4 linked regions of the Homo sapiens genome follow. The protein of the gene in region 2 interacts with the protein of the main gene of each other region in a biochemical or structural test. Each region holds a gene or a part of one and is shown on either strand. Other genes may lie near its edges. The genes, in order: RNF7, UBE2D2, TRIM25 and MARCHF5.

Region 1 (8,132 bases), on a different chromosome or scaffold from region 2:
CTGCCCTAGTCTCTTCAGTGTGGATTAAAAACAACCACTGCCTCCTGAGGTTTTCTTCAATCCCACAATTACTATCTCCTCTGTGCAAGGAGTTATGCACTGGGGACACCAAAATGACCAAGGCTGGGTCTCAAGGGGCTCAGGAGCAAATGGGGACGTAGACAAACACCTAAATATCATGAGGGTTGTGATATAACAGTGAAGACATCCTACCTGAATCTGGCGCTAGTTCTGTGCAATCACAGAATTTTAATATTAAGGTTGGTGATCCCAACTGCCTCTTTACAAATTAGGAAAATAAGGCTCCAAAAAGTTATGTGAAATATCCAAGGTGATACAGTCATGAAGGGTTACTCTGGCTATTATAACTGGCTGTACTAGCAAACCTATTCCCCTTTTCATCAGCACTTGCTCACTGTGTAATCATCACTCCTTTCTGAATGAAGGGAGGAGAGTGGAAACGAAGAGAGTGTTATCCATATCAGAATGGGCTGACAGGCAAGTCTTGGGAGCAGAAAGTATAATAAATCACAAGTGTGTGAGACAAATTCCAAATACTAAGGAAAGGGAACTAAGTGGGTTCTTGTTGCTGAATTTAGGAATCTCTAAATTACACTTATAGCTCTGATGTAGATTATCAAAACTGACCCAAATCTACACAAATTCCTAAAGTTTCAGATAAAAGATAAAAAATTGCTTTAATGATCTTCCTAGAATCTAAAACAGCACATTTCTAAGGAGTACAATAACACCTTTTAGAATGATGCTAGGGTAAGGACTAGGAAGTCTGGAAAAAAAATTTCCTTCTGCTGTCACCTGACCTCTAAGTGGGTTTTAACACCTCATAAACAAAATACAAAGGTCTAGCCTAGAATAATTTCCTGAACCCAAAGTACAGCTGTTGTAAATATGCAAGACTGATCCTGTAGTAGCAGAATACTTGCTATAATTAGAAAGTTTATGATGAAATGTGTCATTTATAGTCTATACTTTGACCTACATTAAAATCTCTCAGTAAAGTTTATTTGTTGCAAAGTTTCAATCATTATTTCAGGTTATACATTTCCACTTACTCTTTAAATGTTTTTCCTTTGGGGAGGAAATAGCTTTTTGGGAGACAAATCTTTTGAAAATACCCTTTGGGAACATTATTTTTAAACTGGAAAGGAACTAAGTGAAAGCTTAGTTTCCTTTAAACTAAAGGAAATTTATTTAGGAGATAAAATGTTTAGCGAAACTTGTCTTAAAAAAAAAAAAAAAGAGTCTCCTGGATCAGTTAAAAATGCTTCCCAAACTAGAAATTATGATTCCTAAGTGGGGGTAGGGGCAGCTGTATTGCTGGCAAATAAACTAGATACTTTTAAAGCCTCATATGTTTTGTTTGTTTGTTGCTGAGACAGGGTCTCATTCTGTCACCCAAGCTGGAGTATAGTGGCAGTGGCAGTGGCAGGAACAAGGCTCACTGTAGCCTCGACCTCCTGGGCTCAAGGGATCCTCCCACCTCAGCCTCCAGAGTAGCTGGAGGCCACCATGCCTGGTCAGCTTTTTATTTTAATTTTTAATTGTACAGACAGGGTCCTGCGATGTTGCCTAGGCTGGTCTCAAACTCCTGGGCTCAAGTGATCCATGTAAAATAAGTGGGTCATGTCTAATATCAAGGTCTTTCAAAAGAGAAAGATAAAAATATCTGAATCCAATTGTTGTAAATCCTCTTTGAAACAAGCCCTTAGGAATAAAAGACAAAAGAGCATAAACTGCGAAATCTCTTGATTCTGGTATGTTTACAGTCTCACCCCCCTTAAGGTGAGCAATTCTCTGTATGTTCTCCAATTCTCTCATTTTTCAAGACAAGTCACAGTTTTCAAACGATAGAAATGTCCGTTTTCTTTAACTACCCTCAATAAAGAATTCCACTGAAGAGGGTCTCATAGTAATTTTAAATGCCCTATCTGAAAATACAACTTGCATTTAAATAGCACCTGCTTTTCAAAGTGGTCTGAGTTCTTAGAACCATATAAAATATAACAAGATTAAGCTGTTCTGAAAAGTTTCACTTGGTCTAATATTTTAACTCAAAATATCACAGAAAGAAGACATATTTGTAAGAGGGTTCTCCACAAAGGCATGACTCAGAGCAGCACAGTATCTTCTCCAGGAAATGGCATCCAATATGGAGAGGGGGGTGTGATGGAGGTGAAGTTTTACGTTTCTGAAAAAAGGGCTTACAATTCTTCAGCTTCCATGAAACTTAGATATTCTTGAACCACACTGTTCCCTTCAAGCCACGCTAGTGCTATCTGACCCGTCTTAAATCAATCCAGATTTAAAAGCCATTCGAAGAGCGGCGGTAAGCTAATCCGGAAATGCAATGGCTATGAACACTTTCCTGCGTCCCTCGAGGAGAACTAAGGGTGTCGTTTTGTGGAAGATGACTCTGGAGCATCACTTTGGTGGTGACCAAGACTATTAAAGTTCACTGCTGAATCACGGCCTTTACCCTGACCACCTTGTGTTGAGCTTTTAGAGGTGGGGCTGGGGCTGGACACACAAACCGAAGTGTTTCCTGCTAGTTCCCAACAATCACCCGGTTTTACTTTCTTGGTCACACCCATCACTACCTGAAATTACCTTGTTTAACTCCGTTTATTGCCCGTCTCTCTCCCTAGAACACCAACCACCCGGCGCAGGGCGCCTGTTGCACAACCCCGCAGCCCCAGGCGGCGGCCGCAGCCCTCAGGAGCCGCAGCAGGAGCGTGGCTCCGCGTTCCTCCGGCGCCGGGGCAGGGCGACCTCCACCCACTCTCCCAGGCAGGGCACTTTCCGAGGCTTCTGACGGACGCCCGTCCCTTCCCAACCCCGAGGTCGGCTCCCGGAGGCCGCAGGGCGGCCCTGGACTCGCGTGCAGCGCTTACCCATCACCTGGACCCTGCAGATGGCGCACGTATCGCACTCCACGTCCCAGCTCCACATGGCCACCGCGTTCCACTTCTTGAGGGAGAACATCTTGTCGCCTCCCGACTTGGAGCCTGAGCTCCCGGAGTGAGAGGCCAGGGCGCAGGTTTCCTCTCCGTCTTCCACGTCGGCCATGGCGGCGCCGCGGAGCCGACGGCGGAGACGTTGGCTTGGGGAAGGCGGAAGGCTAGGGCGGCTCTGTGGAGCCGCCCGACGGGCCACAGCGCCGCCCGCAGGCCGCCAGCCACCGTGGTGCCTAGACCCCGGCTGCCCACGATTGGCTGGCGCGGCACAGTGACGTCACCTGACGCCAGCGCCAGGGGGGCGGGCAGGCCCCGCCCTCGCCGTCCTAGGCCAACTGAGAGGGCTCGGGCCCTTATGGGGCGACGCCGCTGAATCTGCCTGCTGCGCTGCGGGGTGTTACGTCTGAGCAGGCGCACAGATTGTGCAGGGATATGTGTCCTGCTTTACGGCTTCATTAAACCTACTGCTCTCAGAAATTATCTTGTTAATTTATTCGTTTGTCTCTTCCCTCCCAAATGTAAAACTCTATCAGAGCAGGAAACATGTTGCTATCACCACATTATCCTCCGTATCTGCAAAATGCCTGGCCACAGGAGGCACAATTATTTGTTGAGTGAATAAATGATCTTAAAGATCTAGAAATCTGGTTCAGTGATTCTCAAAACTTTTTGGTCCCAGGACTCCTTTTCACTTAAAAATTATTAGGACCTTAAAGAACTTTTATTTATGTAGGAAATGTGTAAATATATATATATATACACACACACATATTATGTATGAATATATATACACATATACAATGAATATATGTATATTCATATATACATACATTTCCTGTATATGTATACACACATATGTAGAGATTAATGTTTGCTTTTGAAGAAATTAAAACATTTTAAAATGTATTCATTAAAAATCACAGTAGTAACCTCATTACAGGTTATCATTAGAGGGATGACTTCACATACCATGTAGTTGCTAGAAACTCCGGTGTACACTCGTAGAATGAGAGTGAAAAGAGAGAAATAGCTCTAAATATTGTTAGGCAACTAGTTTGCCCTCTTTTGACCGCTAAAAGAGGTCGGGATCCCAGGAGTCCCGGTGTGTGGCGACACAACCCACACTTATTTTTCAGGCCCCGCTCCCTCAGCTGCACAGTCTCCATTCCTTCTGCTCAGTACATTTGAGCTAGTTTAACTTCCTCTTTTTATATGTAGGACTAATGAGGTCTGAAGAAGTGAAATGACAAAGATCACATCGTTATTATAGTAGTGCTTCTACGGCTAGCCCACCATCACATGTGTTTCCAAGAAAGCCGGTATCTCCATTGAAAAGAAAACAGAAGCACAGCCAGCCTAAGGAGATGCCTGACCCCACCATCACCTAGTGGTGGACAGCTACTCTGTCAAGTTTGGATTCTGAGCCTCTCCCCATCCCCTCATTTCCTGATACCTGGGCAAAAGCTAACCAGACTAATGGAGCCTGGCAGGGGAAACAAGAATGCATTAATATACAGAAACATAAATATGGACACAGGGTCACATTTGGTTAGATGCAAATGCGTATTTGTTGAGTGGTGTGTTAAGGGCTGTGAGGGTACAGGATGCAGTGAGGGAAAGCCTCATGAGAGAGGTAGAGGATGCAGTGAGGGAAAGCCTCATGAGAGAGTAGAGGATGCAGTGAGGGAAAGCCTCATGAGAGAGGTAGAGGATGCAGTGAGGGAAAGCCTCATGAGAGAGGTGAAGTTTGAACTGGGGGAACATGGGAGGTCTTCAGGGCCAGTGGAGAGAGCAAACCTCTCTGAGCTGTTGGCCAGAGCAGGGCACAATGGTGGCAGCAGACAGGAATTGGACCACACCTACTTTATAAGCCAGACACCCATTGGAGTGAGCACACAAAACATGTGTTCTCTTCTTACTGAACGACCACACATCTGCCTAGAGATGGCTGTAAATGCTAGGTATCTAACAAAGAAGGAAGGCTGGCACCAGAGGAGGATAAAACGCACCCAGTTGGTGAGAAGTTTGAAAGTCAAAAGGATGAAATGGTGAAAAGGAAAAGAATGGTTTCGCTGGAGGAATGGTATGTGCCCTTGCTGAGGCATGAAATCTGGAGAGAGGTGTCTGCTGCAATGAAATTTAAAATAGAAGCCAGGAGGGAGCATAGGGGCGGGAAGTGGGAAGGCAGGTGGAGGAGATGAGTACAGTTTTGACACACTGCATGTCAGGAGAACTTTTTCTCCTGACAAAAAGAACAGGAATGAGTGATGCGCCAGAGTTCAGTGCAACAAGCAAGCATGCATGGGGAGAAAGGAAAGCAGGAGTGAGGCAGAAAGTTCAGGCTGCAGCAGCTGTTCAGGCGTGGTGGGGCCAACGGGTCCCCTGTGATTACCTTCCTTTGGTTCACCTTCATGAGGGCTTGTCTGCCATCATGAGCACCCAAAGGGCAGGAACTATAGGTGGCCTTGAATGCAGCAAAACAAATATCTGTCCTTCTCATGGCCTGCTCAGTTCCCACTCCACCACTGTGCATTGTTCCTCTCACCAGTCCTTGGTGTGTGGTGACACAACCCACACTTATTTTTCAGGCCTGGCTTCCTCAGCTGCACAGTCTCCTTTCCTTCTGCTCAGTACATTGAAGACGTAGTTTCTTTCATTTTGAGGACTTCTCTTAAGCAAAATATTTGAGGACTAACTAATAAATATTTAGGAAAAACTTGTCTCAGTACAAGTGGACATTTTTGTTATTTCTTTGGTCCTCACTCCAACCATCATTTCCCCCTTCTATGCCATTCATCTTTAACAAAATAAGTTTTCCTGTTGCCAGGGAGGTAAAACTTTCACTCTACCCTCTTAGGTTCAGTATTCGGGGGATTGCAAATTAAACCAACAAAACACAGCTTAGCAGGAGAAAAGATAGATTTTTATTCACTGAAGCAGTCAGAGTTCACAGAAAATTATGACTCAAGGAGCAATTAGAATTTGGGGCTTATATACTGTCTAAATAAAGGAAAGGGAGAAGGAGAAAGGGCACTTCTGGGAAAAAACTTTCAGAAAAGATAAACAGGCCTTTGGGAGAATAGATGGGAGATATGATAGTTTTGTGACAAAGTCTATTAGGTGATTTATTATCCCAGTACCAACTTCCTGTTTCTAAAGATAGGGTCAATCTTCCCTGGTTTTGAAATTGCTGGGAAGGAATTTAAGACAGTTGAATTCTTTTGAGAGGCAAGTAAGTTCAGGGAAAAAATTAAAATAAAATAAAACAACTCTTCCTGCATCCACTGATTCTCAAATGCCTTTAGCTCAAAATAATCCTTATGCTATAGTGGCATATTCTGGACTTCTTTCCTGTACTAGGGAAAGAAATAAAAACAAAAACAAACCTGATGACATTTGCTTGTTGAGCTGGAGTAGTTTCCCCAAAAGGACCAATGTTTGGAACCATAATGACAAAGCAAGAAAATTGTTCCTAGAGGCTAGAGATCAAAGCTAGCCCGAAATGTATAAGCTGCCTCCTCCTGGGAATGTCCTTCTAAGCAAGTCTGCTCTCCATCACACTTGTCAGACAAGAGTTATGGCTCATCTTTTTTCTTGGAAATAATTGTGTTTATGTCCATAGGTCCCTGAGCATTTTCTGGTCTTCTTTGGTCACATGGAACCCTCCAGTTCATTTGCCTCTCTTGGTCTTAGGTGAAGGTGCTATGGCCGGAAATCATTAGTCCTGCCACCCCACTCCCCCAACACACACACACACACACACACACCCCATACTGAAAGCGTACATGTGACCAAGGCAATCAGCCTTTGTTGGAGAATTCCTTAAATCCTCCCAACATTATATTTCATTAATTGTAGACATCAATCATCAATTGTGTGACGTAAATCAATTTCGGATGTAAAAAAAGAAGTGATGTAGAATATTTCAGAATAGATGAAAAATGAAATAGAAAAACCCATGCCTAAATCTCATGATGCCTTCTTTAGAAACCTGGTGACTTTCCTGAGAAAGTAGAGTTTTGGGGATTGATTTTAATCCATTTGTCTAAAATTGCTCCACATTGAATCTTCTTGAGCTGCAGGTGCGGATGAGTATAGCACTGTGTGTATGCTTTTGTCTCTTTTTTGAAATTTGCTGAGTTTTTTCTATTAGATATTGGTGACATCGGCTTGAATGGCTCATTGTTGCTTCAAACTTGACAGGTGAAAGGGAGTTCATTTCCTTTCTTGCAAAATTTAGCTTTCTTTCAACAATTCCCTTTCTCTGCCTGAGATGTAATTCTCTCGTAGGTATAACTGTCCTGGTCTGAAACCACGGTCACTGTTGACTCTTTCCCTTCCTCGCCCTTCATACGTAATTATCTGTTCATTCTTTCTTTAGAAATTTCTAGAATCAACCAAACTTTCCATTTCCTATTGTGGAGCTTAACCTCATCACCCTGCTTCTGGATTACAGTGTATTGACTTCTTCCCTGCCTTTCCTCCCCAGTCTAACTGCCATTCAATCTAACATGCCTGGTTAATTTTCCTACCTCCTGACACTCTCCTGCTCAAAATGTTCCAAAGCTCCACATTATCATCAGAACAAAATCTAAATGTCCTGATTGTTCATTTAAGTCCCACCACAATATGGCCCCAACCTACCTGTCAAGGCCATCCCCGGCACCCCTCTGCAGGATCCTCGTGAGACTGGTCTGCACAGTCATCCAAGTGTACCATGGATGGTCTTTTCCTCACATGTTAACATCTCTGAAATTGGATAGAACTTCCCCTACCTTCTTCAGCTGGATTGCCCTCTGTGCTTAGAAAAAATGTACTCATCTTTCTGTTCTCACTGGCCACTCTTTGCCACCACATATTCATGTCCTCCCAGGAAATCACAGCATTTACTGTGCTTCTTCTACACTTTTGGCACCAGGTCACACAGCAAGCAAAGGGCGCTGTTACAGATGTTTAACAAGCTCATCATAATTTATTGAACAATTTTAAGTTTTTAAAAATTGACAGCTCACAAATGATAAAAACAGTGAAACAGGAATACAATAAAAACCCAAGTACCATTAATAGACTCTCCAGAAATTCCTGTATATGCACAAGCAGACACACAATGCATCAATTTAAAATTTTTTTAAATTGTGGTAAAATTTGCGTAACACT
Region 2 (7,380 bases):
GAACTAGAAATCAGCCTGGCCAACATGGTGAAACCCCGTTTCTACTAAAAACACAAAAATTAGACAGGTGTGGTGGTGCGTGCCTGTAATCCCAGCTACTCGGGAGGCTGAAGCAGAAAAATCACTTGAACCCAGGAGGTGGAGGTTGCGGTGAGCTGAGATCGTGCCATTGCATTCCAGCCTGGGCGACAAGACTGAAACTCTATCCCCCAAAAAAGTTCAAATTATTTCTAAACTTGATTTTATTAAAAAAATCTTACAAAGGCATATTTTAAGGAAAATCTATTCTAGAAAATATGTAGCAACTCATAAGAAACTATATTACCAGAGCAAGTATTATTAATTAAAACGTATGTTTTGTGTCAAAGAGATAGTTCCCTCTCTGAAAAAGTCCGTTACACATATAATTCAATGTAGAGATTAAAGTCTACATTTCTTTTTTTTTTGAAAGGGAGTCTCGCCTGTGGCCCAGGCTGGAGTGCAGTGGCGCGATCTCGGCTCACTGCAAGCTCCGCCTCCCCGGTTCACGTCATTCTCCTGCCTCAGCCTCCAGAGTAGCTGGGACTACAGGAACCCGCCACCAAGCCCGGCTAGTTTTTTTTGTATATTTTAGCAGAGACGGGGTTTCACCGTGTTAGCCAGGATGGCCTCGATCTCCTGATCTCGTGATCCACCCACCTCAGCCTCCCAAAGTGCTGGGATTACAGGCGTGAGCCACCGCGCCCGGCAGGTCTACATTTCTTTATCTGTAAATTATTACACATTATACCCACTTGCTCTTTCTCAGGTTATAAAATAAGAGGACAAGCTTCTACAGGTATTTGATAACTTCCCAGTTAGATTCTATAAGGACCTAGCAATTCCTAAAAGCCTTTAAAATACATATGTATATATTTTTTTTGGATGACTACTCCTCAGTGTGCTCCCCTGCCCCTTAAACGGTTCTTTAAGACATCTTTGCTTAAGGTTCAAGCTTCTTTATGGTATTTAACAAATACCATTTCATTTTAGTACAAGATTTATTGTCTAAAATCTGCCCTTCTTCATTTGTTAGAAATCAGAGTCAAAAGAAGTTAAGGAGCTAACCTAATTATAGTAACCAATGGGACTGATTCCACACTGTCTTTGAGCAAAAATGAAATGAGGACCAACCGCTGAGCTGAGGTGTTTAAATCATCAATCTGTATTCTGACTTAGTTTAAGACAAGCTAAAAACTGGTTCTCTTCCTCTTGCATCCCCATCCCATCATTCAGAATGGATAACCCCAGTACCTACTTCTAAGTAGCTACAGGTATAGGCCGTGTGCAGTGGCTGATTGATGCCTGTAATTCCAACACTTAAGGGAGGCAGAGACAGGAGGCTAGCTTGAGCCCAGGAGTTCCACACCAGCCTGGACAACACGGCAAGACCCCGTTCTCCACTAAAAGGAAAAAGATGTATTGAAGAAAAAAGTAGCTACCGGTTTAATATAGCCAATCTGAGTAGCCAAGTGAAACACCAAACAGAAATTAATAGTGGTGCCTCCCTACTTCTAAGAAAAAAAACATGAAAGTGGCACTAAGAGGTTACAACATCAGAAAGGGAAAAAAAATAAATTTTAAGCCAATCTTATAGTCTAGATGTATTATTAGGAAAACCTCCTTATTGATAACTAAATAACCCTTCACTTTAAAGAGCAAAGAAATCCTTTTTAATACAAAATCTAGTAAAACCCCTTCCCAGTTAAGAGTCTCGGTAAACATATCACCTAATAGCGTCAAGTCCATTTTGCGAAGAGGCTGTGAAAGGAACTTTTGTATAATTTCTCTGGTGGTTTTCAATGTTCAGGTTTCTACCTCTACCTTTGCCAATGTACAGCTTTTCTATTAGATCCAATCCTGCAAAACGGAAGTGTTAGTTTCTAACTACATACAGCAACCTCAAGGAATAAAATGATTCTCCCTCTACTTCCCTCCTCCCTCATTAAGTCACCTTTTTTTTTTCTTCTGAACTTCCAACTCTTAACAGTTTCTGGACAAGCAGGGTGGACCGATGTGTGCTGCCACCCAAGAGGTAAGTGAACTCAGGATATACTTGTGGATCGGGCAAAACGGCTTCCTCTGTCAGCCCGAGCTCAGGCGGTTTTGTGGAGGGAGCTAGGGCAGGTGTGGGAGGAGGGAACAGAAATGGGGCGAGAAGCCCTTTCGACCTCTGTCGAAGGGGCCGCCCAACGCCCCAGCGCCCCCCTCGGCCCCAACCCCGCCATCCTGGCCCGACAATGGCCCTCAAGTGCAGCGGCAGTCCCAGACTGGAGAGAAGCCCTAAGAGTCCACACCATGCGGGCCTGGAAGGGCAGCCGGGGAGGAACGCTGAGGCCGCGAGAGCACCTCCGGCCTAAGCGCGGGCTGCGCGCCGGGGCCTCCACGGGCGCCATCACTGGGAGTGGGGTATGGAGGCCGCCCCGAGGGGCCAGCACCGGCAGCAAGATCCAAGGAGGCCGCGAGCCCGACGGAGACTACGGCGGGAAGTGCAGGCCGCAGCCTGCTCAGCTGGCCAGCAGCGCAGCCGACCTCCGGCCGCTTACCTTGTGGATTCTCTTCAGAGCCATGGTGGGAGGCGGGTGGCGGCGGCCCCCGGGGCGGGGACGGGGGCGGGGAAGGGACGGGGAAGGGGCTAGGGAGCCTGAGGCCGCCTCGGCGATCTCGGTCGGCAGGAGAAGATGGAGAGTTGAGGAAAGCGGGTCCGGCGGGACGGGCTGAGGGCCGGGGCCCACTCAGCTCCTGGGCCTGCCGCAGCGGTCACCGCATCACCCGGCGGCGGCCCCTTTATTCGCCGCCGCCCTAGCCGCCACCGCCGCCGCCGCCGTAGCTGCCTCTTCCTCCCAGGATCAGCGCCGCCTCCTAAACCGCCGCAGATCCCTCCGCCAGAAAGCAAAAGCCCAAGCCTCGGGCTCGGCCGGCCTCTCTTGGTCGGACAGCCGGAGGGATTGCCTGTCTTCCTCCCTGCTGCAGGTGGACCGAGGGACGCGCGGGCGGGCGGGCTGCGCCGCCGGGGTGGGGCCGTCGGAGCACGGGGTGGGCCCGACCGAGGGGCAGGTCGGGAGGCGCGGGGATTGGCGGGCCAGGGGAGGGAGGGCCGAGCCGCGCCGGCGGCGGAGGGATACGGGCCGCCCCTGTGAGTAAGCTACGCACCGCCGTCGCCGCCACGGCCCCGGAGGGCGTGACGCTGCGAAGCCCTGGGCGGAGATCTCGCGAGATCTAGAGCGCGAGTTCTGCAGGCTCCAGCGCCGCGACCGTTGACTTCATTGCTGATGGAAACCCACGCGCGTGTCACAAAAGATCAATAAATATTAAAAGGCGAATGTTGTCCAGATCTCACGACCGTCCCCGTACTAGTCCCGGGAGGAGGCACTTAGGCCCACTGCAGCGCTCCTGAAGGAGGAAGGGACTTGGCCAAGGTCACAGAGCTCTTCTGAAGTCCTGGGACTTAGCACATCTCTTTCCAGAGGCCGCGTGGCTACAGCTCGGGCACCTGCCACGAGGGAGATGTCTCATAGCCGCTCGGGTTGCAGTGAGATTGGCCTTCCGGACCAAGGCCCCAGATGGAGAGGATTTGAATGTTGTGTTCTCAGCCACTGGCATGTATGTGTGCCTTCGAGGTGTCCAGACTCTGCTCAGCTTAGTGAATTGCAAATTGTTACAAGCAAGCACTGTACCAGCTGCGTCAGAAAAAAAATCACAGTGTGTGCCCCAAATAGTTAAAACCAACGGCTGGGCGCGGTGACTCACCCCTGTAATCTCAGCACTTTGGGAGGCTGAGGCTGGCGCATCACCTGAGGTCAAGAGTTCGAGACCAGCCTGGCCAACATGGTGAAACCCCATCTCTACTAAAAATACAAAAATTAGGCCGGGCACGGTCACTCACGCCTGTAATCCCAGCACTTTGGGAGGCCAAGGCAGGCGGATCACGAGGTCAGGAATTCGAGACCAGCCTGGCCAACACAGTGAAACCCCTTCTGTACTAAATATACAAAAATTACCCGGGCATGGTGGCAGGCGCCTGTAGTCCCAGCTACTCGGGAGGCTGAGGCAGGAGAATCGCTTGAATCCGGGAGGCGGAGGTTGCCGTGAGCCGAGATCACGCCAGTTCACTCCAGCCTAGGCAACAGCAAGAATGCGTCTCAAAAAAAAAAAAAAAAAATAGCCGAGAGTGGTGGCAGGTTCCTGTAAACCCAGCTACTGGGGAGGCTGAGGCAGGAGAATCGCTGGAACCCAGGAGGCAGAGGTTGCAGTGAGCCGAGAGCACGCCATTGCACTCCAGCCTGGGCGACGAGCAAAACTCCATCTCCAAAAAAAAAAAAAAAACCAACCTCGTGCTCCAGATACCCATCAGGAGGGTCCGCTGAAAATCAAACCTAGAATATTTGGAATTGTTTTTTAGGAGATGGAGACAAAAAGCTAAATCACTGAGCACCTACCCTGTGCCCAGCCCTACACCATGACTGGTGTGAGATACGGAGCCAAGCCAGGGCTAGAGGCCTTACACAGGAGAATAGTAAAGAATATTTTGCTGGGAGGTAATGCCCACATTCTGAAATCTACCCCTGGCGTTTTCTGATTCTAAATGTCTCCTTTTCGCTACATCCAGAAAGGACCTTGCAGATCATTGATTCTAGCTCCTGAATTTATAGAGAAGAAAAAACTGGAGCCCAACTAAGGGAAGGATCTTGCCAAAAGCCACACAGTAGGTGAGTGGCAAAGCTCATACTGCCTCACCTACTGAGAAGGTTGGACCATTAGGACAGAAGCACCGTGCACCCAGTGAGAGAAAATTGTATCCAGTGGTTCAGGGTGGGTATAGTTGAGGTTGAGGGTAAAATGGAACATCTCACAGCCCCAGATATTTTCTTCCTAAGAAATGTGATGGGAGGGGTACAAAAATCTCCACTGGACAGATTTCTTTTTTTTTTTTTTTGAGACGGAGTCTCACTCTGTCGCCCAGGCTGGAGTGCGGTGACGCTATCTCGGCTCACTGCAAGCTCTTCTCCCGGGTTCAGGCCATTCTCCCGCCTCAGCCTCCCGAGTAGCTGGGACTACAGGCACCTGCAAGCACGCCCGGGTAATTTTTTTGTATTTTTAGTAGAAACGGGATTTCACCTTGTTATCCAGGATGGTCTCAATCTCCTGACCTCGTGATCCGCCCGCCTCGGCCTCCCAAAGTGCTGGGATTACAGGCGTGAGCCACCGCGCCCGGCCGACAGATTTTTTTTTTAAAGTTATTCTCAGTAATAACTTTTGTATTAGAAAAGCTCCTGGACACGCCTGTAATCTCAGTAATTTGGGAAGCTGAGGCGGGAAGATCACTTGAACTCAGGAGTTCCAGACCAGCCTGGGCAATATAGAGACTTCATCTCTACAGAAGATTGTAAAAATTAGCCAGGTATGGTAGCACGCACCTGTGGTCCCAGCTACTTGGGAGGCTGAGGTGGGGAGGATAGCTTGAGCCTGGGTGGTCAAAACTGCAGTGAGCCGTGGTGGTTCCACTGCACCTCAGGTGTGGTGAAAGAGCAAGATCCTCTCTTAAAAAAAAAGCAATATGTATTTGTTGTAAGACATACCTATAAGTAAAGGAAGGAAATAAAAGTCACCCACACTCTCATCATCCAATAATTAACCACTTTTGACATTTGGTTAATGTCCTTCTAGTCTTTTTTTCCCTTACATATAAATATCAATACATATTTTTCTTTGAAAAATGTGGGGTCATTGCATAATACTGTTTGGTAATCTACCTTGAAAATAAACAATATATTGGCTGGGCGCGGTGGCTCACGCCTGTAATCCCAACACTTTGGGAGGCCGAGGCGGGCGGATCACGAGGTCAGGAGATCAAGACCATCCAGGCTAACACGGTGAAACCCCGTCTCTACCAAAAATACAAAAAATTAGCCGGGCTTGGTTGGCGGGCGCCTGTAGTCCCAGCTACTCAGGAGGCTGAGGCAGGAGAATGGCGTGAACCCGGGAAGCAGAGCTTGCAGTGAGCTGAGATCGCGCCACTGCACTCCAGTCTGGGCAACAGAGCAAGACTCTGTCTCAAAAAACAAATAAGAAAATAAACAATATATCGTGAATTTTCCTGTTTCAAATATTTCTACCTTATTTTAATGGCTTTGTATTCTAGCATATAAATGTACCATATTTATTTAACTGGTCACATTTTGGGGAACATTTGTTTCCCATTTTTACTATTAAAATAATGCTGTGGTAAATATCCTAGCTATCCTATAGTTCATCTTTTTTCTTTTTTTTTCTTGAGATGGGGTCACTGTCTCTCCCTCAGGCTGGAGTGCAGTGGTACACGTCAGCCTCCAACTCCTGGCTCAAGTGATCTTCCCACTTCAGCCCGCTGAGTAGCTGGAACTATAAGCTGGAGCCACCATGCCTGGCTAATTTTTATTTATTTTTTGTAGAAACAGGATCTTTTTTTAAAAAAAATCATATGACTCTTCTTGATAAACAGACTCTTAATCTTTATACAGCTCTAAGAGTGCCTTAGGATAAACTCCTAGAAATGAAACTGCAGCATTAACAGATATGCAGATTTTTGCATCTGTGTTCATGAGGGATATTGGTTTGTTTGTTTATTTATTTATTGAGACAGACTCTCACTCTATTGCCGAGCCTGGAGTGCAGTGGTGCGATCTCGGCTCACTGCAGTCTCCGTCTCCGGGTTCAAGTGATTCTCCTGCCTTAGCCTCCCAAGTAGCTGGGATACAGGTGTGCACCACAACGCCTGGCTAATTTTTGTATTTTTTAGTAGAGACAGGGTTTCACCATGTAGGCCAGGCTGGTCTCGAACTCCAGACCTCAGATGATCTGCCCGCCTCGGCCTCCCAAACTGCTGGGATTGCAGGTGTGAGCCATTGCGTCCAGCTGGGATATTGATTTATAATTTTCTTTTTTTGTAATATCTTCACCAAATTTTCATATCAAGGTTCAGCACTTGGGGAAGCCGAGGCTGGTGAATCACCTGAGGTCAGGAGTTCAAGACTGACCTGGCCAACATGGTGAAACATGTCTCTACTAAAAAAAAATACAAAATTAGCCAGGCGTGGTGGTGCTGCCTTTAATCCCAGCTACTTGGGAGGCTGAGGCAGGAGAATCACTTGAACCCGGGAGGCGGAGGTTGCAGTGAGTCGAGATTGCACCATTGCACTCCAGCCTGGGCAACAAGAGCAAAACTCAGTCTCAAAAAAGAAATAAAAGTTGGCTGGGCACAGTGACTCATACCTGTAATCCCAGCACTTTGGGAGGCCGAGGCAGGCAGATCACAAGGTCAGGAGTTCAAGACCAGCCTGGCCAACATGATGAAACCCCGTCTCTACTAAAAATACAAAAATT
Region 3 (7,400 bases), on a different chromosome or scaffold from region 2:
TCTGAGAGACAGCCAGCAGGAAATTGCGGGGGGCCTCAGTCCTACAACCATAAGGAACTAAATTCTGCCAACAACCACATGAGCCTGGAAGACAACCCTGAGCTCCAAAGGAAACAGCCTGGCCATCCCTCGCAGACTGTAGCCTGGTGAGACCCTATGCAGGCCACCCATAAAGCCATGTCCAGATTCCTGAGCCAGAGAAACTCTGAGAGAATAAATATGTGTTTTTTGAAGCCCCTACATTTGTGGTAAGTTGTTGCCCAGCTCAGAAAACTAATACAGCGTGTGTCTCAGGGATGCTTCCAGTGACCTCTTCCAGTCTCCCGCTCCTTGAGGGCCCTATCATCAACAGCATGACATCAGGCAAAAAAAAAAAAAAAACATTCAACAATGCCTTGTGGCGACCTACCTCCAGAAACTCGAACTCATCCCTCTTGGTCAGGCTCTGTTCAATCTCCTCCTTCAAGGTCTGGATCTCACTCTTCTTCTTGAGGAGAATCTGATAAATGGTGTCAAACTTGCTGTTGACCCTCTTCTCCTCTTCCTTTATCTTCCTTGTCGAGGTGGTCTCTGAGGCGTCCAAGAGAGCCTTCATTTCCGTGTATTCTTGTTGTAGCTGCTCCACCTTTCTGTTTGCAGTCATCTGAGAGGGCCAAGGTAAGAGGATGCCCGTCAAAGGGGCAAAAGTGCTAAGGCTGCAGCCCCAAGCATGGGTGAGATGTGGAGTTCCAGGAACTCTTACCTGTACTTTGTGGGAGAACAAACCACTGTGGGGAGCAACTTGGCAATATCTAATAAATTTGGAGGTGCTCATAGGCTATGACTCGGCAACTCCAGTCCTAGGAATATGTGCTACAAAAAATTGCAGCCACCTGCCCCTGAGACATGCATAAGAATGTTCACAGGCAGCATTGTCTGAAGTAGCAAAAACCTGGAATCAACCTGAACATCCATCAGAAGAAGACTTGAAGCAAAGACTGGGAGCTATTCATAGGATGGAATATTAAACAGTTATGAAAATTAATAAACTGGAGCTATGCCTGGATAAATCTCCATGAGAGAAAAACAACTTGCAGAAGAAGATCCACCATATGATGCTCTTTCAATAAAGCTTAGAAACAAACAGAATGGCTATATGCACAAAGAAACGCATGGGAATGAATAAATAAATTCAGGAGAGTGGTTACTTCTGGAAGAGAGGAAGAGGGATAGAATAAGGGAGAAACAGATGGGAGGGGCTGCATCGATGATATTTTATTTCTTAAGCTAAAGGTGGTTCATGGGCAATTTTTAAAAATAAAAGTCAGCAAGAGATCAAGACCATTCTGGCCAACATGGTGAAACCCCATCTCTACTAAAAATACAAAAATTAGCTGGTTGTGGCAGCGCGCACCTGTAGTCCCAGCTACTCAGGAGGCTGAGGGAGGAGAATCGCTTGAACCCAGGAGGCAGAGGTTACAGTGAGCCGAGATCGTGCCACTGCACTCCAGCCTGGGAGACACAGCGAGACGCTATCTCAAAAAAATAAAATAAAATAAAACAAAACAAAAAGTCAGGATGCAGCTCTGGAAAATTTCTAGAGAATATCATGCTCTAGGATTGTACTTTCCAATAACATAGCCACTTGCTACATGTGGCTACTGAGCACTTGAAATGTGGTTAGTCCAAACTGAGACTTGCCATGAGTGTAAAATACATACTGGCTTTCAAGGGTTTCACACCAAAAAAAGGAATGTAAAATATCTTAAAACTTTTAAATTGATGATATGTTGAAAGAATAATATTTAAGATATACCAAATTAAATAAACTATAATATTAAAATTAATCTCAGTCAAGTGCAGTGATTCATGCTCATAATCCCAGCACCTTGGGAGACCGAGGCAGGAGGATCGCTTGAGGCCAGGAGTTCAAGACCAGCCTGGGCAACATAGACAGACTGTTTCTCTACAAAAATAAAAATAAAAAAATTAGATGGACTGTATTCCTGGAGAGTGGGGGTGGTGAAGGGGAGTAGGCTCAGTCAGGAAGATTACTTGAGCCCAGGAGTTCAAAGCTGCAGTGAGCTATGATTGTTCCACTGCACTCCAGCCTGGGTGATAGAGTGAGACCTGTCCTAAAAAAGATAGATAAATAAAATACAATAAATCTCATGTACTATTCAAATTAACTTAAAATGACATCTGCACTCCTACTGTATTTCTGCTGGACAGCACTGCTTTAGTAGCTGCAATTTTGTTTCACATCTTGGGTAGCCTCAATAGCTGCTATGGTTTGAATGTCTCCTCCAAAGCTCATGCTGAGATTTAATTGCCACTGAGGTGATTAGATCACGAGGGCTCTGCCCTCATGAATGGATTCATATTCTTATCACAGGGTTTGACCTCCTTCTTCCTGTCCCGCTCTCCTGCCTTCCATCCTTCCGCTATGGATGATCCTCACCAGATGCTGGAAGCATGCTCTTGGACCTCTCAGGCTCCAGAACTTTGAGCCAAATAAACTTCTCTTCTTTGCAAATACCCAGTCTGTGGTATTCCGTTATAGCAGCAGAAAACAGACTAAGACAATAGCTCAGAATCAAACATAACAAAGAGAAAAACACACAAGAAGGACAGTAGACTGGAAAAGAGGAATTCAAGTATTTCTTCGCCAATATTTTTTTTTTTTGAGATGAAGTTTCACTCTTGTCACCCAGGCTGAAGTGCAATGACATGACCTCGGCTCACTGCAACCTCTGCCTCCCGGGTTCAAGTAATTATCCTACCTCAGCCTCCTGAGTAGCTGGAACTATAGGCATGCACCACCACGCCCGGCTAATTTTTTGTATTTTTAGTAGAGATGGGGTTTCGCCATGTTGGCCAGGCTGGTCTTGAACTGCTGACCTCAGGTGATCCATGCGTCTCGGCCTCCCAAAGTGCTGGGATTACAGGCGTGAGCCATTGCGCCCAGCCTTCTTTGCCAATCTTTCACTGTGCAACTTCTAATGTGACTACAAGTGTCCCCCAGTGTTCATTTTCCCTTTTTTCCTTTTGGTAAGAGAACATCCCTGGAGTTTCATCTGGGCGTGTGGCTACTCAGACTACATTTCCCAGCCTCCCCTGCAGCTAGACTAGGCGATGTGACAAAACTCCTTCCAGTGACCCATGCCCAGGAGTGATATGTGCAACACTGTGTCACTTGTGTAAAGGAAAATTGCTTGTTGTCCTCCACCTCCTTTTTGTCCCTTTGTCACAGGCTAGAACAAAGATGTAATGGTAACCCAGCTTCAACCAAAGAGGCTGGGACAATACCTTGTGGAATAGTAGGGTAATAAGAAGGGAGAACCCTTAATCCCTGAATGATCACATGAACCCTTAGTCTGGGTTACTCATGTGTGGGTTTGGACTGTCAGTTGGTAAAATAAACTTCAATCATATTTAAGCCTCTGAATTCTGGTGTATCTTTGTTACAGCAGTATAGCCTGCCCTCTAACAAATACAGGTACTTTCACGTGCATTCTTTCATTTGTCTCACAGTCATCTTCAGAAAGAACTTGTGATTCCATTGTGCAAATTGGGAAACGAAGGTTCAAAGATCTGTCAACATGACCAAAGCAACATAAACTAGTATGTGACAGAGCTGGTATTCTAACCTAGATCTCATCTAATGAAACCATAACTGCTGCAATAAAACTGGTGCTGCAGCTCTGAAAAAGGGTAAAAATCTGATCTTTCCATTTAAAAGCAATTTAAACGTATCGAAAATCTGAAAAACAGGGGGAACAAAACCATTCCTAATTTACCACTCCAACACTTCCACTATGATCCTTCTATAATATTCCCTTTCAGTTTCTTTCCATGCTCTCTGTAATGGGTTGAATGCTGGGCCCCCAAAAGACATGTCCATATACCAGAACCTGTGACTGTAATCTTACTTAGGAAAGAGGTCTTTGCAGATGCAATTAAAGATCTTGAGATTCGATCATCATAGATTACCTAGGTGCTCCCTAAATCCAATGACAAGGGTTCTTATTGGAGATGGAAGACACTAAGGGAAGAAGAGACAGGTATGTGAAGACAGAGGCAGAGATCAGAGTGATGCAGTCAAAAGCCAAGGAATGCCTGAGCCACCAGAAACTGTAAGAAGCAAAGAAGGGTTCTCCCCTAGAGACTTCGGGAGTGTGGCCACGCCAACATCTTGATTTTGGACTTCTGGCCTCCAGAACTCTGCCAGAATACATTTCTGTTGTTGTAAGCCACCAAGTTTCTGGCAATTTGTCACAGTAGCCCTATGAAACTAATATACTTCCTTTTTGTAAATAGATGCAACCCTATGAGCTATATACTTTTGCTTCCTCTTTTTCTCCCACTTTATATCATAACCATTTTTCTGAATTACTACTTTTTAATCCTAATTTATAATGATTTCCCCCACAGTTGGGCTTATAGGTAATTTTTGGTTTGGGTTTGCAAAGGATCTCTCTCAGACACACAGCTGTCTGCATGCTTTGCAAGGTTGATGTTTCATCCTGACACTGTGAGTGCACCCAACACCAGCCTTGTCATGGTCAGAGCCACGCCCATCCCGCGTGGAAGCTGAGCGAAGCCACAGGGCAGGGCTGGCCTTGGAGAGCCCTGCCACTCACCCGCACATCCTGCTGCCTGTTTCTCACATCATCCAGTGCTCTCGACGCCCCGTTGATCTGACTGTACATGACAGTTAGTTTGTGCCTCAGGGTGGCCTGCAGGGAAAACAAATGAGGTTGAGAATGCACCTCTTCAGCCCAGCCCCACCAGAAGCCATCCCTGGAACTATCCCACAGGATAGATTCCTTCCTCTTCCACTCCACCCAAGTCTTGCCACCCCAAGTCCTGTCACCCGAGTCTTGCCTGCTTGGAGCTTTTTGAAGCATTCTAATACTTACTACTTCCCTTCATCCTTTTCAGAGGACAGTACAGACCAGGGTTCCAGTCCCAACTCCCAGCTGTGCAACTGTGTCCTTCACCTCAGTTTTCTTGGACACAAAATAGATACAACTGTCCCCAGCTCACAGGGCTATTGGGAGGATTAATTGAAACAATGTAAGTACTCAGCCCAATGCCTGGATCTTAGGAAAAACATACTAAATGCCAGCTTATATTATTATGAGTTTTTCTCTAATTACCCATTTTACAGCCAATGAAACTCAAGCAAGGAGGACAGAAAGGTGGCCAAGCTCACACAGGAACAGAACGAGCTGGGACAGCTGCTTCGGTAATGGCAGGTGGGGCCACTCAGACCAATCCTCCCACTGCAAACAGCCAGGAAAGCAGTCCAAATAATGGGGCAGCGGGGAGATCTGCTAAAAGATGCTGGAGAGCCAATCAAGCAGAGGATTAAGAAGTCAAGGTCCAGGAGAAGGGGGAAGGGGGCCCAGAGAGATAAGCCTGATATCTAGGATGTTCTCTCCAGAGGCATCTGCCAATCCCAGAACAAGGCTGGGAGCCTTTGTCAGCCTCACAGGGCAGGGAGACAGAAATCAGAGTCCAAGGCTCACTGCAGACTGGGACCACCAAGGGCTGGGAATAAGATGAATCAGCCAGCCAGGCGCAGTGGCTCATGCCTGTAATCCTAGCACTTTAGGAGGCCCAGGCAGGTGGATCATTTGCTCTCAGGAGTTCGAGACCAGCTTGGGCAACATGGCAAAACCCTGTCTCTACTAAAAATACAAAAATTAGCCAGGTGTGGTGGTGCACACCTGTAGTCCCAGCTACTTAGGGGGCTGAGGCAGGAGGATCGCTTGATTCCGGGAGGTTGAGCCTGCAGTGAGCTGAGATGGCATCACTGCACTCCAGCCTGGGTGACAAAGTGAGACCCTGTCTCAAAAAAAAAAAAAAAAAGATGAAGTAGCTCACAGGGGCTGAAGCCCAGGTGCAAATCTGCTCAGTCCTAGCCACCTCCAGAAACAAAGGCAAACTGTATATGAAGGAAGCTAATATCCTCATCTGATTTCAATTAATTTTCATAATCAATATCTGAGTCTCCTACCTCCCTGCTCAGATGAATACTGCACAGAAATGGGAAGGAAAATCACCACCACCATAACAGCAGCAGCCAGTATTTATTATGCACTTACTGTATGCCAGGCACTGTTCTAGTGCTTTACCTGTATTAACTTACTTAAAGCTAAGAACAACACTATGAGGTAGGAATTACCCAGCCTTTACAGACAAGGACACTGAGGCACAGAACAATTAAGTGACTTGCCCCAGCTACACTACTAGTAACTGGCACAGCTAAGATCCCGATATTAAAATCATAGACACATGCCCAAACTGAGCATGCTGGAGATTTCTAGAAAAAAAAAATTTCCTTCCCGTAACTAGCAGGCTCAACATACTCTGGCTCTCTCTTCCACTTCCCAGACTCTTCAACTCCACCCAAGATATTCTGGGCGGAACCTGATCTTGAATCTAGATTTGAACAACCCAGTGACAGTCACATGTAGGGGTTGGAGGCAGGGACCAAGGCCACACTAACTCAATCCGAAAAGCCCAAGCTGCTCATGATGTTTCAAACTTGACCTCTGTGACACTGCCCTTCGACCTGGCCTCTAACAGTGGCCAAGATAAGGTGTGGGCCAAAGACCAGGCCTACATACATCCGGCCTTGCTGGCCTCAGAGCAAGAAGAGACCTCAGAACACCCCAAGGCTGCCAACTGCTTCACTTTCAAGAGCTGCTCATAGCACTACACCCTGAGCCCTATATTTTGAAAGATTTGATACACCATTAATCAAACACATGCGGCAGTACCCTCATCATGAATGGTGCCCACACGACTCCAGACCAAAGGAAAGTGACCCAAAAACTTTGGTAGCAGCAATAATCCCCTAATCAAAGGCAAAGGACTTTTTGAAATCCTGAGGATCCCTTCACAGACTAGAGACTTGGGTCTTCCACATGGGAGGCACCAGAGTCTCAAGTCCGACCCCACCAGTGGCCAAGGCAACCCAGCCCCCGAGGCTAAGGGCATTGCCCAGCTGAGACTGGCTCTGCCAACAGTGATGAGCAGCAGTAGCAGGGCTCAAAAAGCAGACCTGTTATAGGACTCAGCAAGTCAGGACAGGGGGGTAGGTGTTGGCAGAGGAAGGCCTGTTGTTAGGATTAAACAGCAGAGTTTAGGCCAGGCTCCTGGCTCACGCCTGTAATCCCAGCACTTCAGGAGGCTGAAGTGGGAGGATCCCTTGAGGTTGGGAGTTCAAGACCAGCCTGGACAACATAGTGAGATCCCGTCTCTACAAAAAATGTTTTAAAATATTAGCTGGGTGTGGTGGTGCGTGCTTGTAGTCCTAGCTACTCAGGAGGCTGAGGCAGGAGGATCACCTGAGTCCAGGGTTTAAGGTTATAGTGAGCTATGATCATGCTACTGTAGTCCAGCCTGGG
Region 4 (7,665 bases), on a different chromosome or scaffold from region 2:
GTGTTTTGCTGTTTTATAGAGATGTATGTTTCATTTGCTGTAGCCCTGTGAAGTAGGGTTCTCATTTTATAAATGATAATATACATAGTGTCAGAATCTAAGTTCAAAGTCACATAGCTAGTAAGTGGCAAAATTCGAATTTCATACTTTCTATCTCTGAGCCCAAGCTTTACTCACTATACCCTACTATCTCTTATCATGAAAGATATCACTGACTTAGGACTTAGGGCAGTAGGTTTCTGCCATATCTAAAACATTTAAAAAGCTTTAAAATATAGATGCCCAGGCTCTACCCTACAGAAATTTTTGATCTTATTGGTCTTACAGTCCAGCATCCATGCATATTCTGAAATGCTCCCCAGGTAATTCTAACATGGAAGTAGGTTGCCAACTACTAATCTAGACAATAACGGTCTTTGAAAGTCATGTTAAAAATCTACCTTAAGGTATGTCAAAAGAGTACAAAGATGAGAGTAGTACAAAGATGAGAGTAAGCCAGTGTCATAGTCACCTACTTCAGTAAATGGCAGCCAGAATCTTCGCATTTCTGTTAATAAGTTTTAAATGCCTCACTAGCTTTTTTTTTTGAGATGGAGTTCCACTCTGTCACTCAGGCTGGAGTACAATGGTGCGATCTCAGCTCACTGCAACCTCCGTCTCCCAGGTTCAAGCAATTCTCATGCCTCAGCCTCCCGAGAGTTGGAACTACAGGCCCACGCCACTACGCCTGCCTAATTTTTGTATTTTTTTTTTTTTTTTTAGTAGAGACAGGGTTTCACCATGTTGGCTAGGCTGGTCTCAAAGGCCTGAGCTCTAGTGATCTGCCTGCCTTGGCCTCCCAAAGTGCTGGGATTACAAGGGTGAGCCACCGTGCCCAGGCTCACTCTTTGGCTTCTTACTTTTATGGAAATATCCAAAGAGCATATGAAAAGTTAGGTCAGCTTTTGGACATAAGAACTTTTCTAGGCTGGGCACGATGGCTCATGCCTGACAATCCAGCACTTTGGGAGGCTAGGCGGGAGGATCACTTGAGCCCAGGAGTTTGAGACCAGCACAGGCAACATGGCAAAACTCTGGCTCTATAAAAATACAAAAAATTAGCTGGGCATGGTGGTATGTGTTGTGGTCCCAGCTACTAGGGAGGCTGAGGTAGGAGGATCACCTGAGCCTGGGAGGCGGGGGTTGCAGTGAGTTGAGATCATGCCAATGCCACTGCCACTGCCACTGCATTCCAGTCTGGGCAACAGAGACCCTGTCTCAAAAAAAGAAGAAAAAAAGTCACTATGTAAAAATGAAAAGCAGGAGGCCCTCAAAGGAAAAAAATTAACTACAAAATACCCCACATCAGAACAGGGTCTCAACAGAATAGAACTGGCAGTGGCAGGTGGTTTCCTCTGGGCATATTTTAATTTGCCACAATTTGCCAATTTACAATGAAAGGAAAACCTGGTAAATTATCAGACCCCCTAGACAACTGGGGAAACTGACAAATAAGTTTGTGCATTAGTTCATACAACAAATACTTACTGATTACCTACTGAGTACCAGGCTCTGTTCTGGGATTCAAGATAAACAATAGTAAGTTTCTGCTTCCAAGAGCTTATAAACCACACACATATCACACACATATATATATAAAGCAGTCAATACAATTGTCAGGATGTTGACCTGAAACAAGGGCTGGATGAATCACCAGTTATCTCAACTGAAAAAAATCAGTGACATAATTCCTATTAACTGAGATGGCTCAAAATTCTAAGCTCCAAAAAAATGTCTGTCACTCTGGAAGGATGTGTACCCTTGGGTCATTTGTGTTCTGGGTGTGGCAGGCCCAAAAGCATTTAACTGGGTATAAACTCAATTAAGGGAGGGCCTTCATTTAACACCTTACAGTTGGAATTTTACTGAGTACAAAGAGTTGGTACCACCTGCTGAAATGGGTGGCAAGTGGTGTCTATTGAGAATTGTAAGCAACCACAAACATCATGAATTAGCTTGTACAACTTGCTATGCCAGGAAGTAAGACTTGGCTCGGGGGAAATGTGGATCTAGAGTCTCCAAAAACTCATGGTAGGACCCACGGACCAGAATTTCAACAGCAGAGGGCGGTGCACCCGACTTCACAAAGAGTTTTACCGACTGGGGCCCCCCAAGAATGGGCAACTGGACTCCTGTACGAGCTGAAACGTCTTCAATGAACTCAACGATCGTCAAGTACACTAAATGTTCAGCGTTGGACTCATTTGGCTGTTTTCCATAACCTCTACTCTGGTCTGACCGTTAAATCTCCCTTGCGGATACTCTGACCTTACAGTTCGGAGGTGGGGACGGGATGGGGCGGGGGGGACGGGGGGTGCGGGTTCAGGGAAAGTGGGAGAATGAAATCAGCCTATCAGGCTTTCCAAAAGAATGCTTATCATTGGTTCTCAGACAGAGACTTAAAATTATAAGGGGGTCATTCCCCTGAAAGATAACCCGGTTCTTGCCAGTGACATCGCTGACAAACACTTCACAAGTTGGGGAGGGGGAAGGGGGAGGGGAAGAGGGTAAGGAAAACTAATTTTGTGGATTAACAGGAGTCCCTCTCAGGTCAAAACGGGGTTCCAAGGAAACCAGACGCCACTCCTTAGCTAAGTTTCACCCAAAGTCTACGACCCAGGCCGCTCGCTCTGTCCTCCCCCAGGTCTAGACTCCAAACTTTTTGCCCCTCTCACGGCCCCCTGGCCGTGGAACTCCTCCCGGCACGCCGGGTTCTGCTCACCAAGAGCCTCGAGGGCGGGCGCGGGCAGGGCCAGAGCGAGGGTCGGCGGCTCCCGGTCCCCCCCACAGCTGCCCGTACCTGTCCAGCATCTGCTGTAGGGCTTGGTCCGGCATCTTCCGCGGAGCCGGCGCACACGGCCTTCCCCAGTGGACCCGCTCAAGGCCAGGCCCAGGGACAATAGCACTGAGAGGCGGCGGAGTAGGCCGCAGTCCGGCGGCAGCCGCGAACCCGTCACCCAGCTTCCCGGGGCAGCTCCGCTAGCCTGGCGGCGGCGGTGCAGGGCCTGCGGGAGTCCGGCGGAGGCGGCGGAGAGCGAGGAGGAGGAGCCTGAGGCGGGGAGGCGGCGATCGCGGCCCGGGTTCCCGTCCGTCGGCCCGAGGTTCCGGTCCATGGACCGCGGGCGCCGAGTTGCTGCCGGCGGAGGAGCTACCTTTGTGAGGTAAGAGTCGCCGCCTCCGTGCGCGCCAGGGTTACGACGCAGGGCGGCCCAGAGCAGCCTGGGAGATGTAGTCTTCGGACCGTCTCCACTAGAGGCTGCACAGCCCGCCCGGACCAACGCCTCCGCGCCTGCCGCCGTCTGGCCGGCGCCCTCCCGTTTCCTTCCTCCAGGGGGAAAAAATGTCTTTCGGGCCGCTTTCCAGGAAGCAGCAGGATGCGCCGCTCCACTGTCGGTAGCAACAAGGTCAGCCCTCCCTGCCTGTTTGTTTTTGCCTCCGCTCTTGCCCTCAGGTGGGACCGAGCCAGGTGAGGGGAGGGGGCTGAAGGGCCATTTCTTATCAGGGTCCCCGGCCCCGGCCGTGGCGTCGGGGCGGTCAGTGGCGGCAGTGGGGGTGGCAGAAACTCCTTCCGAAGCCCCCGGCGCTGGAGCCAGCCTCTCCTGCGGCAGAGCCCATTTTGGGGGAATTACACCACCTCCGCGAGGGGTCGGTTGGTTTGGTGCGTGAGGTTCTTCTTGAGGGGGCGGGCAAATAGGGACTGCCTGGACCAGACAGCTTCCACCCGAGTCTCTCTGTGTGTTTGGGGCTGGGGAGTTGGGGGAAGGAAAGATGATTCTCTCCCTCTCCAGGAACCTTCTCAAATGTGCCTGGGCTTTCCAGGGCTCGCCGACAGTCTCCAAATGGAACACGTTGGTGAATAAACAGCTCTTGCTTACTCAGCTGTGGGTTGTCAGGGATGTTTGTTTCTCTCTCTGCTGCTGGTCACTGTTAACCGTTTCTAGTCGCGTTGACACCTTCAAGCAGGTGGATTGGGAGTGGCGGGGGTGGGGAATCAAAAAGGAGAAATCATCAGTCACTCCTTGGGTCAGCTTCTGACGTTCGAGGGATAGCTTTGGCGGGAGGAAAGAGCTGTCGGCTCAAACGAATGCGTTTTTTGGACGACCTGTGGCGTTTTCTCTAGGGCTGTGATTGGTAGGACGCTGGTAGTTTTCCCTTGATTATGTCTAATATCTGCTACAAGGTGTTTGATTTTTTAAAAAATGAAAATGTGTTTTTAAAGCTCTTTTTATATGTAGAATTTTACAATCAACTTTTCATTATCTGTTCAAAATTTGCGAAGTATATTTGAACTAGAGTGTTCATTGCTGGGAAAAAACAACAAACCCAAAAAATGTGACCAGAAGCTTACTTGGCCTCCAATTTTTGAAATATGTTTTTGAGAAACAGCACCCACCCCCCCCCACCACACACATACACACACACTCCTCCTAGGGAAAGAAAATGAGTATTTAGTTTAATCGGGGTGTCTAATATTTTATATATATTTGTATTATATATAATATATATGTATTATATAATATATAATACATTTATAATATATAATACATATATACATTTATAATATATAATACATATATATATATATATATATATATATTTTTTTTTTTTTTTGGTAGAGACGCGGTCTCGCCATGTTGCCCAGGCTGGTCTTGCAACTCCTGGGCTCAAGCGAGCCACCCGCATTGGTCTCCCAAAGTGTTGGGATTACAGATGTGAGTCACCGCATGTGACCAGTGTCTAATATTTTATTTAATTAATTCATTTATTTAATTAATTCATTGATTTTGAGAGATGGAGTCTTGCTCTGTTGCCCAGGCTGGAGTGCAGTGGCGCTGTCTTGACTCACTGCAAGCTCCACTTCCTGACTTCAAGTGATCCTTCTAGCCTCAGCTTCCCAAGTAGCTGGGACTACAGGTGTGTGCCACCACACCCAGCTAATTTTTGTGTTTTTTAGTAGAGATGGGGTTTCACTATATGTTGACCAGGCTGGTCTCGAACTTCTGACCTCAGGCGATCAGCCCGTCTCGGCCTCCCAAAGTGCTGGGATTACAGGGGCGAGCCACCGCGCCTGGTCTATTTTATTTTTTTGAGACGGAGTCTCGCTGTGTTGCTCAGGATGGAGTGCAGTGGCACTATCTTGGCTCACTGCAGTCTCCTCCTCCGGGTTCAGGTGATTATCGTGCCTCAGCCTCCGGAGTAGCTGGGATTACAGGCTCGCACCACCATGCCTGGCTAACTTTTGTATTTTTGGCAGAGGCAGGGTCTCACCATGTTGACCAGGCTGATCTTGAACTGATCTCAGGTGATCTGCCTGCCTCGGCCTCCCATAGGGCTGGGATCATAGATGTGAGCCACCGTGCACAGCCCGGTGTCTTAACATTTTAAATTATTATTTTTTGCTCCTTGTGCTGTGTCAGTCTAACCTTATTGTGTACTTATTTCTTAAGCAGTTGTCAGCCATGGGAGTTGGATATATACTTCCTGCTTAAAAACAGAATTTTATCCCAGCATATGGATTAAGTACACTAGTACAAACTCCAAGATTCTAAGATCTTAACCAATGTTAGAATGTCTGTTTCAACTGAAATTGGAAAATATGATACCTTTTGTTGATAGCAAAGACTTGTGCACCTTGACCTTATTATACCAACAAATGGATTTTATGTTTGCATTTTTATGAAAAATCAGCTTTCTGGCTGTGTCAAAAACCTTTTAAAGTAGAAAAAAATCCTGTTACTGGTCTAAAGAGTGATTAGCATGTGACCCAGTAATTCCACTTCTAGGTATTTTCAAGAGAAATGAAAACATGTCTACACAAAATCTTGTTTGTGAATGTTCATAGCAGCATTATTCTGGGTTTTTTTTTTTTTTTTTTGAGACAGAGTCTCGCTTTGTCATCCAGGCTGGAGTGCAGTGGCGCCAGCTCACTGCATCCTCAGCCTCAGGGGCTCAAGCACTCCCCCTGCCTCAGCCCCCCAAGTAGCTAGGACTACAGGGGCGCACCACCATGTCTGGCTTAAAAAAATTTTTTTTGTAGAGATGGTGTTTTGCCATGTTGCCCAGGCTGGTTTCGAACTCATGAGCACAAATGATCCTCCCACCTCGGCCTCCCAAAATGCTAGGATTACAGGCATGAGCCACAGCACCTGGCCTACAGCATTATTCTTGATAGCCAAAAAGTGGAAACCCAAATATCCACCAGTTGATGAATGGATAAACCACATGTGGTGTATCATACAATAGAATATTATTAGGAGAAAACAAGGAATAAAGTTATGATACATGCTATAACATGAAAGAACCTTGAAAACATTATACCAAGTGAGAGGAGCCAGTCACAAAGACCACATATTGTATGATTCTGTTTGCATGAAAAGTCAAGAATAGGCAACTCCATAGAGACGGAAAGTAGACTAGTGATTGCATAGGGCTGAAGGAGTTGGGGAGAAATGGGGAGTGACTGCTAATGAGTATGAGGTTCCTTATTAGAGGGATGAAAGTATTCTAGAATTAGATAATGGTTCTGGTTATATAATTTTGTGAATTATATCACAAATAAGATAAAATTAGATTATGGTAATAGTGGCAAAACTGTAAATATACTCAAAAACCCATTGTACACTTAAAAGGGGTGAATTTTAATGTTACATAAATTACATCTCAATAAAGCTTTTAAAAGAGTAATTAGCTCCACAGAAAATGTTCATAAGGGTATCTGAAAAGAAGCATATAAACAGATAACTGATAATTCTTTATTATCAACTTTGTTTCTTATTAGTATGGGCAAAAATAGTGATTGATAAAACTCAGAAAATAAATTAATCCTAACATTTGAAATGGGTGACACATATTGTGTGAATTTCAATATTGTTTGTCAGCTTTGTTTTTTGTGGTCTTACATTTTCCAATAAGACTCAGAATAATTGGAATTACAATATATTCTCTGATTTTGAAGGAAAAAAGTCTAGATTATTAAGACCTTAATCTGACCAAAACCACATTGAAATGCACTCCTGCATTTATATGTAGGGTTGAAAATCTATGATAGTGGCGCATACCTGTAGTCCCAGCTACTCAGGAGGCTGAGATAGGAGAATCGCTTGAACCTGGGAGGCGGAGGTTGCAATGAGCTGAGATCGCACCACTGCACTCCAGCCTGGCAACAGAGTGAGACTCCGTCTCAAAAAAAAAAAAAAGTCTATGATAAATGATATTCAGCCAAGAGAGTAACCAGCATGACTATAGACAAAAACAACTTTTTCCTCAGAGATATATTTTGAAATAGAAATTAACCTACAGAAAATATTTAAAGATTCTCCCAAGTTCAGAGGACAAGAACAAAGCTTGATGATGTAGAGTTCTAAAGAGTTGGGATTATAGGCGCACACCACTATTTTAATAATTCTGTAATGGATTTAGAGATAACTGAGTATGAGCTGCTCTAAATATGTCAGAAAATTTAAAATAATATACCACTCTAATGTTCTTCCATCATACTTGTTTTGAACTGTCTACCATAAAGGGGCCTGGAGTATTCGTTACAGAAATGGTATAATATTTTTAGGTGCCTTCTAAGGAGAACTGTCAATTGCCAAATTTGGTGATAAACTGCAGGCTGAGTCCTCA

What was found.
Region 1: the proteins of UBE2D2 (region 2) and RNF7 form a complex in vitro, tested with the Homo sapiens proteins (5 studies listed by BioGRID).
Region 3: the proteins of UBE2D2 (region 2) and TRIM25 form a complex in vitro, tested with the Homo sapiens proteins (5 studies listed by BioGRID).
Region 4: the proteins of UBE2D2 (region 2) and MARCHF5 form a complex in vitro, tested with the Homo sapiens proteins (7 studies listed by BioGRID).

The regions. Positions count from the first base shown.
Region 1 is NC_000003.12:141,733,297-141,741,428, reverse strand, and holds the start of RNF7 (RING-box protein 2), read right to left. Parts: upstream 3,132-8,132; 5' UTR 3,088-3,131; coding exon 2,913-3,087; intron 1-2,912. UniProt on the Homo sapiens protein: Catalytic component of multiple cullin-5-RING E3 ubiquitin-protein ligase complexes (ECS complexes), which mediate the ubiquitination and subsequent proteasomal degradation of target proteins.
Region 2 is NC_000005.10:139,557,000-139,564,379, reverse strand, and holds the start of UBE2D2 (ubiquitin-conjugating enzyme E2 D2), read right to left. Parts: upstream 3,042-7,380; 5' UTR 2,589-3,041; coding exon 2,565-2,588; intron 2,137-2,564; exon of another isoform or gene 1,973-2,136; intron 1-1,972.
Region 3 is NC_000017.11:56,903,846-56,911,245, forward strand, and holds part of TRIM25 (E3 ubiquitin/ISG15 ligase TRIM25), read right to left. Parts: intron 4,719-7,400; coding exon 4,623-4,718; intron 644-4,622; coding exon 410-643; intron 1-409.
Region 4 is NC_000010.11:92,286,704-92,294,368, reverse strand, and holds the start of MARCHF5 (E3 ubiquitin-protein ligase MARCHF5), read right to left. Parts: upstream 3,203-7,665; 5' UTR 2,875-3,202; coding exon 2,840-2,874; intron 1-2,839. UniProt on the Homo sapiens protein: Mitochondrial E3 ubiquitin-protein ligase that plays a crucial role in the control of mitochondrial morphology by acting as a positive regulator of mitochondrial fission and as an important regulator of immune response.